Homo sapiens: one gene and its partners. The protein of the gene in region 4 purifies or fractionates together with the protein of the main gene of each other region. This does not show direct contact. Each region holds a gene or a part of one and is shown on either strand. Other genes may lie near its edges.

Region 1 (3,444 bases), on a different chromosome or scaffold from region 4:
GCCAGCTGCCAACCTTGAAATACAAATTAAACATTTAAGTTGGCATAATGAACATTTCCAGGAAGGGCAGTGGCTAATAATCTGTAGGACAAGGCTACCAGGTTTACTATGGCTCCTCTTCAAATGACAATGACAAAGATTTGAAGTAATAAGGCCAGAAAAGCCTTTTCATTTCCAAAATCATCTTTCCTGGAAGACTTGGAAGTTCAAACTTCACTACGTGAGATTTCACTGCTCTCATATCAAGCCGACTGACCTCCATAGCTCAAGAGACTACCTGTTAGCTGATCCCCTAAAGCATGGAGGATCGATTCAGGAAGGGGGATCTATTCAGGAAGAGATCTATGCATCAGGGTTAGCTGTATGAGAAGTATGAGAAAATCTGCTTATATTATTTTTGGCTACAGACAGGTGTTTCCAATTTCTCATGTTTAGTCTTAAATGCATCCAAGTTTGTGTGTGTGTGTGTTGGGGGTGGAGGGAAGAACCAGATACACTTATTTTCAAACAAAAGCTGCCACATGTTTATTAAGACATTACTGGCTCTTAAGCACAGCTGGATCTATAAATCATTTTCCATATATTATCACATATTCAGGAAAGTTTCTGAGATGATATATCAAGACAGGCTTCTCTTGTGACTCAACTGGACCTGAGGAAAGAACAAAAGAAATTACATACCTGATTTATAGCTGCTGGTCATCAACAGACACGTACTGGCAATGTAATCTTTTGAGACAGGAGAGCTAAACTGCTTTCCCCTCCTTGCTAAAGCTTTGCCCAAAATGCCTGTACCTTTAAAAATCCTTTGTCCTAATTAAATCTATCTGCATTCTCAAAGTCCCTCAACATTCATTAATCTCTGAGGAGACCAAACAGTCAACTGTGATGAAGAGGCCAATTGCAAAGCTCAATCTCAGAACCACCACATCTCAGGCCTGAAAGGACACCATGAGAAGGGAAGGATGTTCTATGGTTTTAAATATTGGGCAGCAGAACTAATGGCCAGCCCCATTATCTAGCTCTGTGAAACAGAGCAAGCTGCTAATCTCTCAAGAAACATATATATAATAAGAGGATTCAAGCTCATACAAGCTATAGCTATATCTGAAGACCCATCTCTCTGTGTTATTAAGTCTTTTGTGGATTAAACATGTTCAGTAATTACAATTTTGATGAGAATTATTGAATGCAACATTAGAGATCAGACCTCAGAAGAACCGAGCCAGATTGCTGTGATTTGGGATAAGAAAGGAGGGTCCAACTTCAGCTAGACAGTTCCTGATCTACTTCCAACCCACCCCTCTAAATAAAGATGCAGTAACTTAGGGGTAGAGAAACAAAGCTCAGCTAATGTGCTGCTTCCACCAACTGACAGCAATGGGTGTATCTTAAAACCTGCAGAATTTGTAAGAAAAGGGTTTTCTTACTTCAAATAGTCTCTTTAGAAGTCTGAGTAATGGTGCAACCTGGAAAAGTAAAAAATAAGTCATCTGAACAACTTTGTAATTACCCACAGTGTTTTCAATTAGATCACAGAAGGGCACTTAGGAAGATTTTAGTGGGAAAAATATGTAATCACAATCATTCACACCAGGCAGTTAGGTTCAGACTCCTCAATCTGACATTCTGGAGGATCTGAACGCCTCAGATTTTAGGTAACATGAGTAGGCTTACTCCAAAGTTTCACATGGGGGGTCTATGAAATACCTGATCAGACATAAACAATAAAAATGTCATCAGTCAATTCCAGTCACTGGTATAGCTAGAAACAGTGTCATTCTAAAGAGCAATGCTCTGGTGGAAAATCTAATGGCCTTTGGGTCTTAGAGAAAAAAAAATTTCACTTATAAAAATACCAAAGGATTTGGAAGAAAATTCTAAGTGCAATAAGAATCTGCATCCTTTTATAAAATACAAACTGAAACAGAACCACTCCAAATCTGATCTGAAATGAGACTGATGAAATTATCCTGGTATAACCTGTTTTCCTTTCAAAGTAAGTAGAACTGTAAACCACATTATTGTCTGGTATATTCTCCTTTCACAACTATTTCCTCAAAACCAATTTACATTCCTCCTTTTCTTCACTCCAGATTTTAGTCCGTTTTGAAAGCAGGAATTCCCTAAAGCATACAAACATAAACACAGGGTTCTATGTAGCATTCACTACCAACACAAGGAGCAAGGCAAGAGGGCTGTGATTTACATCACAAGTTTTCTACTGAAAGCTCTTTAGTTCTCCCTAAAGATCCACCTTGTCACCTATATCTTCTAGCAATGATGCAATTAGGTTTTGTTTGTTCCTGTTTTATAGCCAAGTATGTTGGGTACAGAAAAGAACCTGGACAGCGCATATAAGTTTTGGTTATCTTTGTGGTTAACACCCTTATTTACAGCTTACAGCTACAGGGAAAGAAACACCTTTTAAAAAGAAATCAATTAAATCTAGTGGAGTAAACTGAATTATTAAATCAGCAAAAGCTAATCTAAACATAAGGCACGAAGAAAGTGGAAATATTATTAAAGTGGCTTTTTCTCAATTTGACATTCTCAAAATAGTGCTTTCCAAAAAATATATATATTCCCCAGGTGAAGTTTCCTGCTAGTGACATTTTATGGTAGAAAATTACCCAAAGTACTGCCCAAGGTTATTTATAGATTCAATGCCATCCCCATCAAGCTACCAATGACTTTCTTCACAGAATTGGAAAAAACTACTTTAAAGTTCATATGGAACCAAAAAAGAGCCCGCATAGCCAAGTCAATCCTAAGCCAAAAGAACAAAGCTGGAGGCATCATGCTACCTGACTTCAAACTATACTACAAGGCTACAGTAACCAAAACAGCAGGGTACTGGTACCAAAACAGAGATATAGACCAATGGAACAGAACAGAGGCCTCAGAAATAATGCTGCATATCTACAACCATCTGATCTTTGACAAACCTGACAAAAACAAAAAATGGGGAAAGGATTGCCTATTTAATAAATGGTGCTGGGAAAACTGGCTAGCCATATGTAGAAAGCTGAAACTGGGTCCCTTCCTTACACCTTATACAAAAATTAATTCAAGATGGATTAAAGACTTACATGTTAGACCTAAAACCATAAAAACCCTAGAAGAAAACCTAGGCAATACCATTCAGGACATAGGCATGGGCAAGGACTTCATGTCTAAAACACCAAAAGCAATGGCAACAAAAGCCAAAATTGACAAATGGGATCTAATTAAACTAAAGAGTTTCTGCACAGCAAAAGAAACTACCATCAGAGTAAACAGGCAACCTACAAAATGGGAGAAAATTGTCGCAACCTACTCATCTGACAAAGGGCTAATATCCACAATCTACAATGAACTCAAACAAATTTACAAGAAAAAAACAACCCCATCAAAAAGTGGGCGAAGGATATGAACAGACACTTCTCAAAAGAAGACATTTAT
Region 2 (3,500 bases), on a different chromosome or scaffold from region 4:
ATGCCAATTAGACTTTGCTTTTTCCAGAGACAACCACTATGTGGGTTTTCAGTTAACATCTCCTGATTACACTAACTAGCGGGGCTGCTGAATTCTAAATAAAGGTTTAGTGCCTGGTATGAGTATAAGGGAAAGGGACAGCGTTGACAGATGCCTACAAAAAATCTTAGGCATTTGCAGATGACACCCTTGACAGAATAGACATATCAACAAAGTTATACCAAAGGCAAAATTTTAAAAATTCCGGACCTTAAATGTTATCTATAGCAGGCATTTAAAAGGACCACATGGTACCTCAAACACAGGAAGGGAGGATATGCAGAGATGAGAGGAAGGTATGTTGGATAAGCTCTGAAAACGCATTGAAGAGTAAGGGGAAGCTGATTTTATTTGGCTATCTTGTCTGGACAACCAACCTGCTGGTTACCTTACTGGTAAAAATGAAAACTATTGTGCAGAGGGTTTCTGTAAGGATTAATAACACACCCAAACTGAAGGGTATCATCTGCGGAATGCAGAGCTTCATATTGCCTATTTTCATGATCCTTATATAGTTAAGTGAAAACCATCTCCAAATTTCTACGCAATAGTAGTAAAACTTTACCAGGACATTCATGAAATATACATAAAACACAATCAAGACAGTCTCCCCAAGAATTACCAGGATATCCTTCTAAACTGGTCCGCACATTTTCCACAGAAGGATAGATCTAAAAATAAGAGGAAAACAATAAAACTCGGAATGTACCATGTTGAAGAAAAGGAATGATAATCAGCTTTTAAGGAAATGAAAATCTGTTAAAAATACTTTTAAATTAGAAAATATGCTTTAAATTTTTAAAAGTTCTCATCTTATGAAAAAAATGAACTAGTAATTAAACAACAGGAACCATATTTGATGTAAAATTATACTTCAATTGGAGTATTTTTTCCTTTGAAATTCAAGTTAACATTGAATGGAAAATTAATTATTAATTCACAGTTCTCTAAATAATTAAAATGCCCATAATTCTGCTGGCTGTGCTACATCAAATATTTTCTACCTTGGTTCAACAACCTGAAAGAAAGGATAGAAAAATCACAGGCCAGTCTGTGTCTGCAATGGAGCTCCTGAACGAATCGGCAAGCTCTTAGCACTGGATATTAAGGCAAAGGCAACTTGATTACAAATGACGATGCTAATGTACTGCTCTTTCCGCACCCCGCCCCCGCCACGCCAAAAAAAAAAAAAGAATCACAGAATAAAACATCTCTCCATTACAAAGAGGACCAATTTTCAATTCTTCTCCTGTGTAGAGAATAAAAGTAAACTACCTCAATGAGGACGAGAACTCACCAAGTAAAGAGGAACAGAGCTTTTTCCTGGAGTCTTGCTTTCCTTCCCCAGTGTCAGCATGCTCTCTTTAAACTCAGAACATAACCACTTTGATTCATCGGCTCCCAAGGAGCCAACGCTTGAAAACTGACCTACGACAGGCCAGGACTCTGCGTTAGGCATGGATGAGGCATGGTCTTTCAGAAGCTGGGAAAGAATAAAAGTGAATGTTAAAGTGACTCAAATAATCTTAACAGAAATGCTGCAATATTTGAAAACAGTTTTCTGCTCTTGGAAAGCCTAATTAACAAGAAAAGCTGAAAATACTAGTGATCAATTTCATACCCACACATACATACTTCTTCTTTGGGAAATTTTTTTTAAATACTAAAAACATATTTTTAATGGAGTAGATGGACAGAAGTTCTCCTTTCCAAAATTATTTGATTTGTACTAAAAGCAAAAACAGGTTTAAAAAGGCCCATTTCAGAAGAAATTTCAGATAAACCACCAACTTGTCATATGAAATTAGATTTTTTTTACTTGAAATCACAAGTGTTTAATGCAGCTTTGATGCTATGAAATATGTATTTGGTCTTCATCCCTGTTTCCTGGCATGCAACTACTAAAATCCTTGGGATCTCCAATGTGAAGTCTTTCTGTATGTTAATGAGACTGATGGCTGGCAGACCCTAGGCAACTTCAGGATGGGGGCTGGTCACGATAAAGACCAAGGCATGATTAGAAGATTGGGACTTTTGGCACAACCCCCCATCCTCCAGGGATAGGAGGGGCTAAAGGTTGAGCTGATCAGCAATGGCCAGTGATGTAATCAACCATGCCTATGTAATGAAGCCTCCATTAAAAACCCAAAAGGACAGGGTTTAGGGAGCTTTCCGACAGCTGAACACCTGCGGGCTGCTGGACAGTGGTGGTGCATCCAGAGAGGGCATGAAAGCTCTGTGCCCCTTCCCCTATACCTTGCTCTATGCATCTCTTCATCTGTATCCTTTATAATAAAGCAGTAAATGTTAAGTGTTTCCCTGAGTTCAGCGAGCTGCTCTAGCAAATGAAGCCCAAAGAGAGGGTCATGGGAACCTCAACTTGAAGCTGGTCAGTCAGAAGTTCTGGAGGCCCAGACTTGCAACTGGTGTCTGAGGGAGAGGGGCAGTCTTGTGGGATGGAGCCCTCAATCTATGGGATCTGAGGCTACCCCCATATTTCTTTAAAAAAAATGTATTTTTTCAATTATTTTTTCCCTACTATTCCCCAACTCCTTCCCCACTTCCTACTTAGACCTTTAGAAATACAATATAACCTTTTACCTTTCCTTTACTAGACACTCCCTACAGGGCAAGTTCATCTATGTGCTTAGAAGCTCCAGAGCAGAACTTTCTCCCACCAGGGGACTGCCTCGAGGGACAGCAGTAAATTTACAACCCAAAGTATGCCCACTAAGAAACTCTCCCACCTGGAGAGTTTCAGCCATCTTTACAACCTAGTTCTGCCCAGGAAGAGACCAAATGGACTGCCTGGTAGAGAAGGCAGAAAGTAAGGAAGTATCCACCTGCTTGCTTCCTCCTCTGCGTGCCATTCATGCTAGGCCCCTTTTAAAAGTGTCCACTTTCTGCTCCAAGAGCAAAGCAGTATCCTTAAGACAGGAAGCCTGTACTTATTCCTCTAAGCCAGCTTTGGAATAAAAAATAACTTTTTTTATACCATCACTTTCTTTATATCATCACTTTCTTTAAAGTCACTTTCTTTATACATCTCCAGGAAGACAGCATAAGAACTGAAGTGAATTAGAGGACACCCAGCTGGTGTCCCCTGCTTAGTGTATGAGGAAAACCCCACACATATTTGGTCACAGTTTTCTGTGTTGACTGTTGTAGTGTGAGAGCAGAGGAAACAAAGTGAGTTTTTTGCTACCAACACTTAAACAATACCTAGAAGGATTACATATTTTGACTCCTATCATTTGAAAGAGGCTTAACAGTCATAGTTTAACACTTGAGCTCCAGGCAGCTGTGATGGTCTAAACATAAAAGAGAATATTTACATACACATACCAGCTAAAACACTGCAGAAGACTGATCTGCATTTCCTGCTTTGATAATTATGCAAAGCTGCAGAAACAATTAAGAAAACATTTGGAAACTGTATCCACTTAAATATGTACTGAATG
Region 3 (3,500 bases), on a different chromosome or scaffold from region 4:
TTTGTTTACTTTCTAAAGCCTAGGAAGGCAGGCAGACTGAATTATTGGCAAATAATTCATTTCTAATACCAAGGATATTTGGGAAACATATATTTCTATTTTCTTTCTTTGATAAATTACATTGAACCATGTAAGATGGGCCTCTCAGAAGCTGTCTGAGAAAGTTAGCTATGGATTTTTTTTTTGGCAGATGTAGAAATAACTGGGGTGTGGGGAATTCCCAGCAAAACCAGTAATGCCATCCTATCTACTGACCAGAAAGAGCTTCCATGCTCACCCTTGTCTGACCAATGTTAGCGTTAACAATTCTCAGCAAAAAAGAACAATTCTCACTCTCACAATGCTGACACTGCCACAGCTCTTTAGTTTAAAAATGAATAATTCAAGACTGCAGTGAAAATCATTATCAGGGGAGGAAAGGAGGCATCATTGCTTGTAAACAGTAGGTTATAAAAATACAGTGGTGTTTTAATATAGCACAAGGCAATTCTCTTTGTTACCTTCTGTCCCAGAACAAGGCTCTTAGAAGACAGAATGGTGAATCCATCCCCTGGCCCATCTTCAGAGGTGGAATTTGAAGTTCCTTCTTTATCGCTGTCCTTTGGTTTGGACTGTCGGTAAAAATCAAAAGGCAAGATGAGAACCAATCCAGAAAAAGCCTGAGGTGCCTTTATTAAGCTCTTCTCACGGCTGCCACCAAGTTGAATATGAAAGGAAGTGGTTAGGTGATGTGTTCTGCTGTTTCTTGAAGGAGGGGAGCAAAAGTCAGCAATATAAGGAAAGAAAAGGGTACCGCAAAATAGCAAAATAGAAAGTGTGTTAAAGGGCTCACACATACCTGCAGTCCTCACCTACCCCTGTGCACCAGCACATTGTCCTTGCTCATTTCAATGCCTGCAGCTCACGACGACAAGCATCGGAGCTGGGTGGGGCCGTTGATAGCCCATTGCTTAGCCTTCTTTCTCCCCAGGATTTCTCGGGGCACAGAGGCAGTGTGGAATGAAACATCCACAACTTCTACAGTAGGGTTGTCCAATAGAACTTTCTGTGATCGTGGAAATATTCATCTTGATCCTCAATAATGTTGCTGAGTGCTTGAAATGTGGCTGGTACAATCAAGGAGCTGAATTTTAAATTTGATTTAGTTTTAATTCAAATCCAAATAGCCTTGGCTTGTGTGCCTTAGCTCACACTTATAATTCCAATGCTTTGGGAGGCTGAGGCAGGAGGGTCGCTTGAGCCCAGGAGTTTGAGGCTACAGTGAGCTATGATCTCGCCACTGCATTACTGTACTCCAGCCTGGGTGACAGAGTGAGACCCCTGTCTCTTAAAAAAAAAAAGCCACATGTGACCAGTGGTTACTGTACTGGGCAACATAGGAAAACATTATTCTATCAGTGGCATCTCTGAGCTAAGCTACCTAGTATATCAAGCTAACCCAAACACCTAGTATATCAAGTATATGCCAAACACCTGAAATTCCACTGGCGGAACTCAGGGAATGCCTGCAGGAGACTAGAGGCTGTTTGGAAGGCAACACAGAGCTCTGCAGAGAAATAAAATGCAGGTTCCTGGCTATCATCGCTCACTTCAGATTTTGCTGGGGGTAGTAAAAGGGATCTGAAAACCATCCCTGCTTAGGGTTTGGAAACCTAGAGAAGACCCATTTCAGCTCTAACCTCAAAGGCCCTTTATTCTTTTACCTGTACATTCTTGTCATTTTCTTCCGGCACCAAGCTGCAAGAGTCCTCGGTCCTTCAGAGGTGTCTGCTACGAAGTCATTGTCTCATCTTTAAACTTCCCTCCTGTTCTGTGAGCGTCTTAGTGTCTGCCTGGGCTGCTCTAACAAAATGCTATAGACTGGCTGGCTCACAAACAACAGAAACCACTTTCTTTTTTTTTTGTTTGTTTAAGAGACAGGGTCTTGCGCTGTCACCGAGGCTCGAGTGCAGTGGTGCCATCATGGCTCACTGCAGCCTCTAACTCCTAGGCTCAAGCCATCCTCCTGCCTCGGCCTCCCAAAGTGTTGGGATTACAGGCATGAGCCACTGTGCCTGGCCCAGAAACTTGTTTCTCATAGTTCCGGAGGCAGGAAGTCCTTGGCGCAGGCAGGTTCTGTGTCTGGCAAGGGCTCACTTCCTGGTAGATGACGCTTTCTAGCTGTGTCCTCACATGGCAGAAGGGTCCCTCTGCCTCCCTCAGGCCTCTTTTATAAGGGGACTGTTCCCATTCGTGAGGACTCGCCCTCATGATCTAGTTATCTCTCAAAGCCCACACCTTGTAATCCTATGCCTCTGGGGTTAGGTTTCAACATATGAATTGTGGGGGAACACAGACATTCAGACCATTGCAGTGGGAGTGCCTGGCCCAGGACACGCAGCCTCGGCCTACCTTTTTGGACGTCCGTGGTTTGGCAGCCTTGGATTTCTTCCCCCCCTTCTTGCCTGACGTGGCCTTCCTGCCTCTTTTCTCTGGGGGTGGGGAGAGGATCGTTTCCGACTTGCCTTTGGTCCCTCGCTTTTTGGCCAGCAGTTCGGGGTGAATTCTGGGCAGGACGCCTCCACTGGCGATGGTCACTCCTTTTAGCAGCTGAAGAGAGAAATGCATGCGCTCATGTAGCAAACAGCCTGCTAGTTCCCAATTTCATACAGTTCTTTTTTTTTTTTTTTTTTGATACAGAATCTTACTCTGTCACCCAGGCTGGAGTGCAGTGGCGCGATCTTGGCTCACTGCAGCCTCCGCCTCCAGGTTCAAGCAATTCTCTTACCTCAGCCTCCTGAGCAGCTGGGATTACAGGCACCTGCCACCACCCCGGCTAATTTTTGTATTTTTAGTAGAGACAGGGTTTCACCACGTTGGCCAGGCTGGTCTCGAACGGCTGACCTCAGGTGATCCACCTGCCTTGGCCTCCCAAAGTGCTGGGATTACAGGCGTGGGCCACTGTGCCTGGCCTGGACTTAATACGGTTCTAACTGTTAAATGTGGCCTCCGCTTTCCTAAAGAAACTGCGTAATACACCATTTAATTGGCTTTTCCCACTTTCAGTTGTAGAGCATTTCTCCGTAGGTTAACAAGGCATCCTGTGATGTTGTACAGAAAGCAAAACGAAGTAAAGCAAAATAGAAGGGACACAGAAGTTGAAACCAGGGATGTTGCCCAGGGCTCTGGAATTCCAGACACAACACAGGATAAAAAGCTTCCCATGTGGGGAGCGCAGCTTGAGAAAATGATGTTCAAAGGTCATTGCAAAGACTAGACCCAGTTAATGATGAACCAGTGGTCTCCACAAGCTTGCACATACATTCCATCAGTAAAGTATGTCTGGCCATGCTCCTCCCAATCAATATAAGTTAATTTATCTGCAAAGAACAGACACGTACTACTCCACTAATATATTCTGCAGATTCGAAACCAACACTACCCCAAGCATGGTCTGCGACCATGGCTCACCCATGAACTGGTAGTTACCCGTCAGTGACAACAGAAGTATAGCAAGCATC
Region 4 (3,500 bases):
CACTGCTGCCTCAATCTCCCAGGCTCAAGTGAGGTTCCCACCTCAGCCTCCGAGTAGCTGGGATTACAGGCATGTACCACCATGCCTAGCTAATTTTTTTTTTAATTTACTTTTTGTAGAGATGGAGTCCCATTATGTTGTCCAGGCTGATCTTGAATTCCAGGCTCAAGCTGTCCTCCCACCTCAGCCTCCCAAAGTGCTAGGATTACAGGCATGAGCCACCACACCCAGCTGAGATCTGTTTTTATTATGATATACAATTTACTGGAGAGTTGAACTGCTCATGCTGAGATGATTCACATCACACGTTGTCGTAAGCAGATACCTGCAACAGTAAAGCTCACCAAAACAGCAACAAGAAGTGGCTAGAAATTATTACAGAAGTACAGTATGTATTACAGTGAATTTTATGCTTTACATTTGTCTACATATCTCTCAACTGCAAATGGCACTATGTACACTCTGTGTTTGTGTGTGTATGTTTTGATAAATTTTACCTTTTTATAATAGATTTGAGTATATTTTATGGTAGTAAATGATAAAATAGACTACTACCTACATATATTTCATTTATTCATGACATATCTTTTTAATTTTTCAATGTTTTTTAAATATAGAGTTTGTGAGGTTTTTCAAATTGTCACAAATCTCCCAAAAACTTTTCCAATATACTTGTTGAATCTGCATAGAAGTGGACCTATGCCGTTCAAAACCCATGTTGTTCAGGGTTAACTGTATTCACAAAATTGTGCAACCATCACTTCTATTTCCAGGATGTATTCATCACTCCAAAAGGAAACCTCATACCCATTAGGACTTTGGGTTTTAAGTGTGACAGTAAGCCACTGGAAGGTTGTACTGAAAATACTATTCAGAATATTAATAATAAAATTTATAGTATAATATTAATTAAAAATCAGTGGTAACTATTGCACAATATATACACTGAATAAAATATATATACCTATGTACACAGATTAAATACATGAAAGAACTACATTGAATGTTTACAGTGCTTATCTCTTGGTAATTGACTTCGAAGTGCTTATTTTGTCTTCCTGCTTACTTGATTTTGGTGAAATTCCTACTTTTTTTTTTTTTTTTTTTTGAGTCTCACTCTGTTGCCCAGGCTGGAGTGCAATGGCACAATCTCAGCTCATTGCAATCTCTGCCTCCCAGGTTCAAACGATTTTCCTGCCTCCGCCTCCCAAGTAGCTGAGATTACAGGTGTGCACCACCACAGCCGGCTGTTTGTATTTTTGGTACAGACAGGGTTTCACCATGTTGATCAGGCTGGTCTCAAACTCCTGACCTCAGGTGATCTGCCCGTCTCGGCCTCCCAAAGTGCTGGGATTACAGGCGAAAGTCCTACATTTTCTACATTGAGTATATAATCTTGCAAAATTGGGAAAGAGCATAATACACACAAAAAACATTACTTTACACAATACTTCACAATTTACAGTGCTTTCCCAAAAGATTATCTAGTTTGCTGTATCAACAACAGACAAAAATAGACAAATTCAAATTTTCATGGTAGAGAAAAACAGAAAGTCATCTAGTATAGGATTTGAGCCAGTATTATGGTGAAATGCATAAACCTAAAAAAAAAAGCATGGGATCTATTTTAGACATAATTTCATTAGATTATTTCCTTCTACTTTTGTGGAGCAGAGGGTAAGTAAAATATATATATATATATAAAAGACTTAAACTGAATCCAGACTGGTTACTATAAAGAAATCTACAAATCATAAAATTGTCTTATCTAGATATCTTCCCAGTGCCAAGTCCAGCATGCATTCCAGAGCTCAGTCATCTATGCTGAGACTCTGCCATAATATTTGATAAGAGGTCGGTCTTATTCTTCAACAGAGCAAAAGTAGTTGATATAAGATGTTTGACATTATCGTATTTGGAATGTACAAAGTCCAACTTCTGATGTTAAGAAGGGGCAATTATGAAGAAATAGACTTGATTTTGCCCAGAGACTCCCCATAAACACTTCAATTCAGAAATCAAGTTCTCTTTAAAAGGTTAATATATTTGATGTGAAATGTTCTTTGGAACTTGTGAATATGCTTTCCCATAAGAATAATGGTGTAAATGGTAGGTTATCAGGCAACCTCACAAACACCTAATTCACAATACTGATTAATATGCATCACTTTAGATTTTAAAAAGCAAATCCAATGCTTTTTGAGCTCTAATTCAAGGCTGGTGAATTGTTAGCCAATATGATGAAATTGTGCTGACTATCATGATGTCACTGAAATTTCAACTCATCCAACCTGTTTGGCTTGCAATGCTGCTTACATAGTGAATGCTGCACAAGTGTGAGAACATCATCCTCATCATTAATATATGATGACAGAGGCAACATAGTAAGTAAAGACATAAGGAAAGCTTAAGAAGACAAAAGTGGGTTTAAAGCACCACTTGGGACTTTGGAAAATTAATGTGTCTAAGTAGTTATTTTGCTTATTCAGTTCGGTTCAGCAGACATTTCTTAAAGACCTATTCTGTGCCAAGTACTCTACTTAGTGTGTCTAGAAGTAGTTTTTAACTCTGGCTTTGCAATACAATCATCTTCAGAGCTTTTAAAAATACAGATACTACCCAGGCGCGGAGGCTCACGCCTGTAATCTCAACACTTTGGGAGGCTGAGGCAGGCAGATCACCTAAGGTCAGGAGTTCGAGACCAGCCTGATCAACATAGAGAAACCGTGTCTCTATTAAAAATACAAAATCAGCCGGTTGTGGTGGCACATGCCTATAATTCCAGCTACTCAGGAGGCTGAGGCAGGAGAATCTCTTGAACCCAGAAGGCAGAGGTTGTGGTGAGCCAAGATCGCACCATTGAACTCCAGCCTGGGCAACAAGAACAAAACTCCATCTCAAAAAAATACAGATACCCAGACACTACCTACAGAACCAAATTACCAAAGAAAGGAACTCATACAAAAGTATGAAGACATGTGAGAAGATAGCATATTCATGGTAAGTAGTAAATGGGGGATGAAAATTTGAAGGCATTAATTCAGGGGAAGATATATATAATTGTAAAATATAGTCTTTGTCCCTGTTGCCTGGCATAACCACTAAAATCCTCAGAATCTCCCAAGTGATGTCTTTTTGTATGCTAATGAGTTAAGTGACATCTAGCAGCCCCTAGATAGCTTCAGGGTGGGAGCTAGTCACTGGAAAGACCAAGGTATAGAGAATTGGGACTTTCAGCCCCAAGCCCCAGCCTCCTCTAGGGAGACGAGAGGGGCTAAAGGTTAGCTGATCACTAATGCCCAATGGTTTAATCAATCATGACTAAATAACGATGACTCCATAAAAACCCAAAGGGGACAGGGTTAGGAAAGCTTCCAAACAGGTGAACATGTAGAGGTTTCTGGAGGGTGGCACACTTGGTGAGAGCATGGAAGCTCAGTATCCCTTCCCATAGCTTACCCTATGCATCTCCTCATCTGTATCCTTTGTCATATCCCTTA

Evidence for each region. Proteins that work in one complex are often made in the same cells at the same time.
Region 1: the proteins of APLF (region 4) and UTP18 purify together in Homo sapiens (co-immunoprecipitation; one large-scale study listed by IntAct). This does not show direct contact.
Region 2: the proteins of APLF (region 4) and TDP1 purify together in Homo sapiens (affinity purification with mass spectrometry; 3 studies listed by BioGRID and IntAct, with this or other methods). This does not show direct contact.
Region 3: the proteins of APLF (region 4) and MACROH2A2 purify together in Homo sapiens (affinity purification with mass spectrometry; 3 studies listed by BioGRID and IntAct, with this or other methods). This does not show direct contact.

Annotation. Positions count from the first base shown.
Region 1 is NC_000017.11:51,294,990-51,298,433, reverse strand, and holds the end of UTP18 (U3 small nucleolar RNA-associated protein 18 homolog), read right to left. Parts: intron 1,470-3,444; coding exon 1,445-1,469; 3' UTR 1,431-1,444; intron 653-1,430; 3' UTR 501-652; downstream 1-500. UniProt on the Homo sapiens protein: Part of the small subunit (SSU) processome, first precursor of the small eukaryotic ribosomal subunit.
Region 2 is NC_000014.9:89,986,927-89,990,426, reverse strand, and holds part of TDP1 (tyrosyl-DNA phosphodiesterase 1), read right to left. Parts: intron 1,523-3,500; coding exon 1,337-1,522; intron 711-1,336; coding exon 662-710; intron 1-661. UniProt on the Homo sapiens protein: DNA repair enzyme that can remove a variety of covalent adducts from DNA through hydrolysis of a 3'-phosphodiester bond, giving rise to DNA with a free 3' phosphate.
Region 3 is NC_000010.11:70,090,846-70,094,345, reverse strand, and holds part of MACROH2A2 (core histone macro-H2A.2), read right to left. Parts: intron 2,590-3,500; coding exon 2,392-2,589; intron 612-2,391; coding exon 501-611; intron 1-500. UniProt on the Homo sapiens protein: Variant histone H2A which replaces conventional H2A in a subset of nucleosomes where it represses transcription. Nucleosomes wrap and compact DNA into chromatin, limiting DNA accessibility to the cellular machineries which require DNA as a template.
Region 4 is NC_000002.12:68,474,085-68,477,584, reverse strand, and holds part of APLF (aprataxin and PNK-like factor), read right to left. Parts: intron 1-3,500. UniProt on the Homo sapiens protein: Histone chaperone involved in single-strand and double-strand DNA break repair.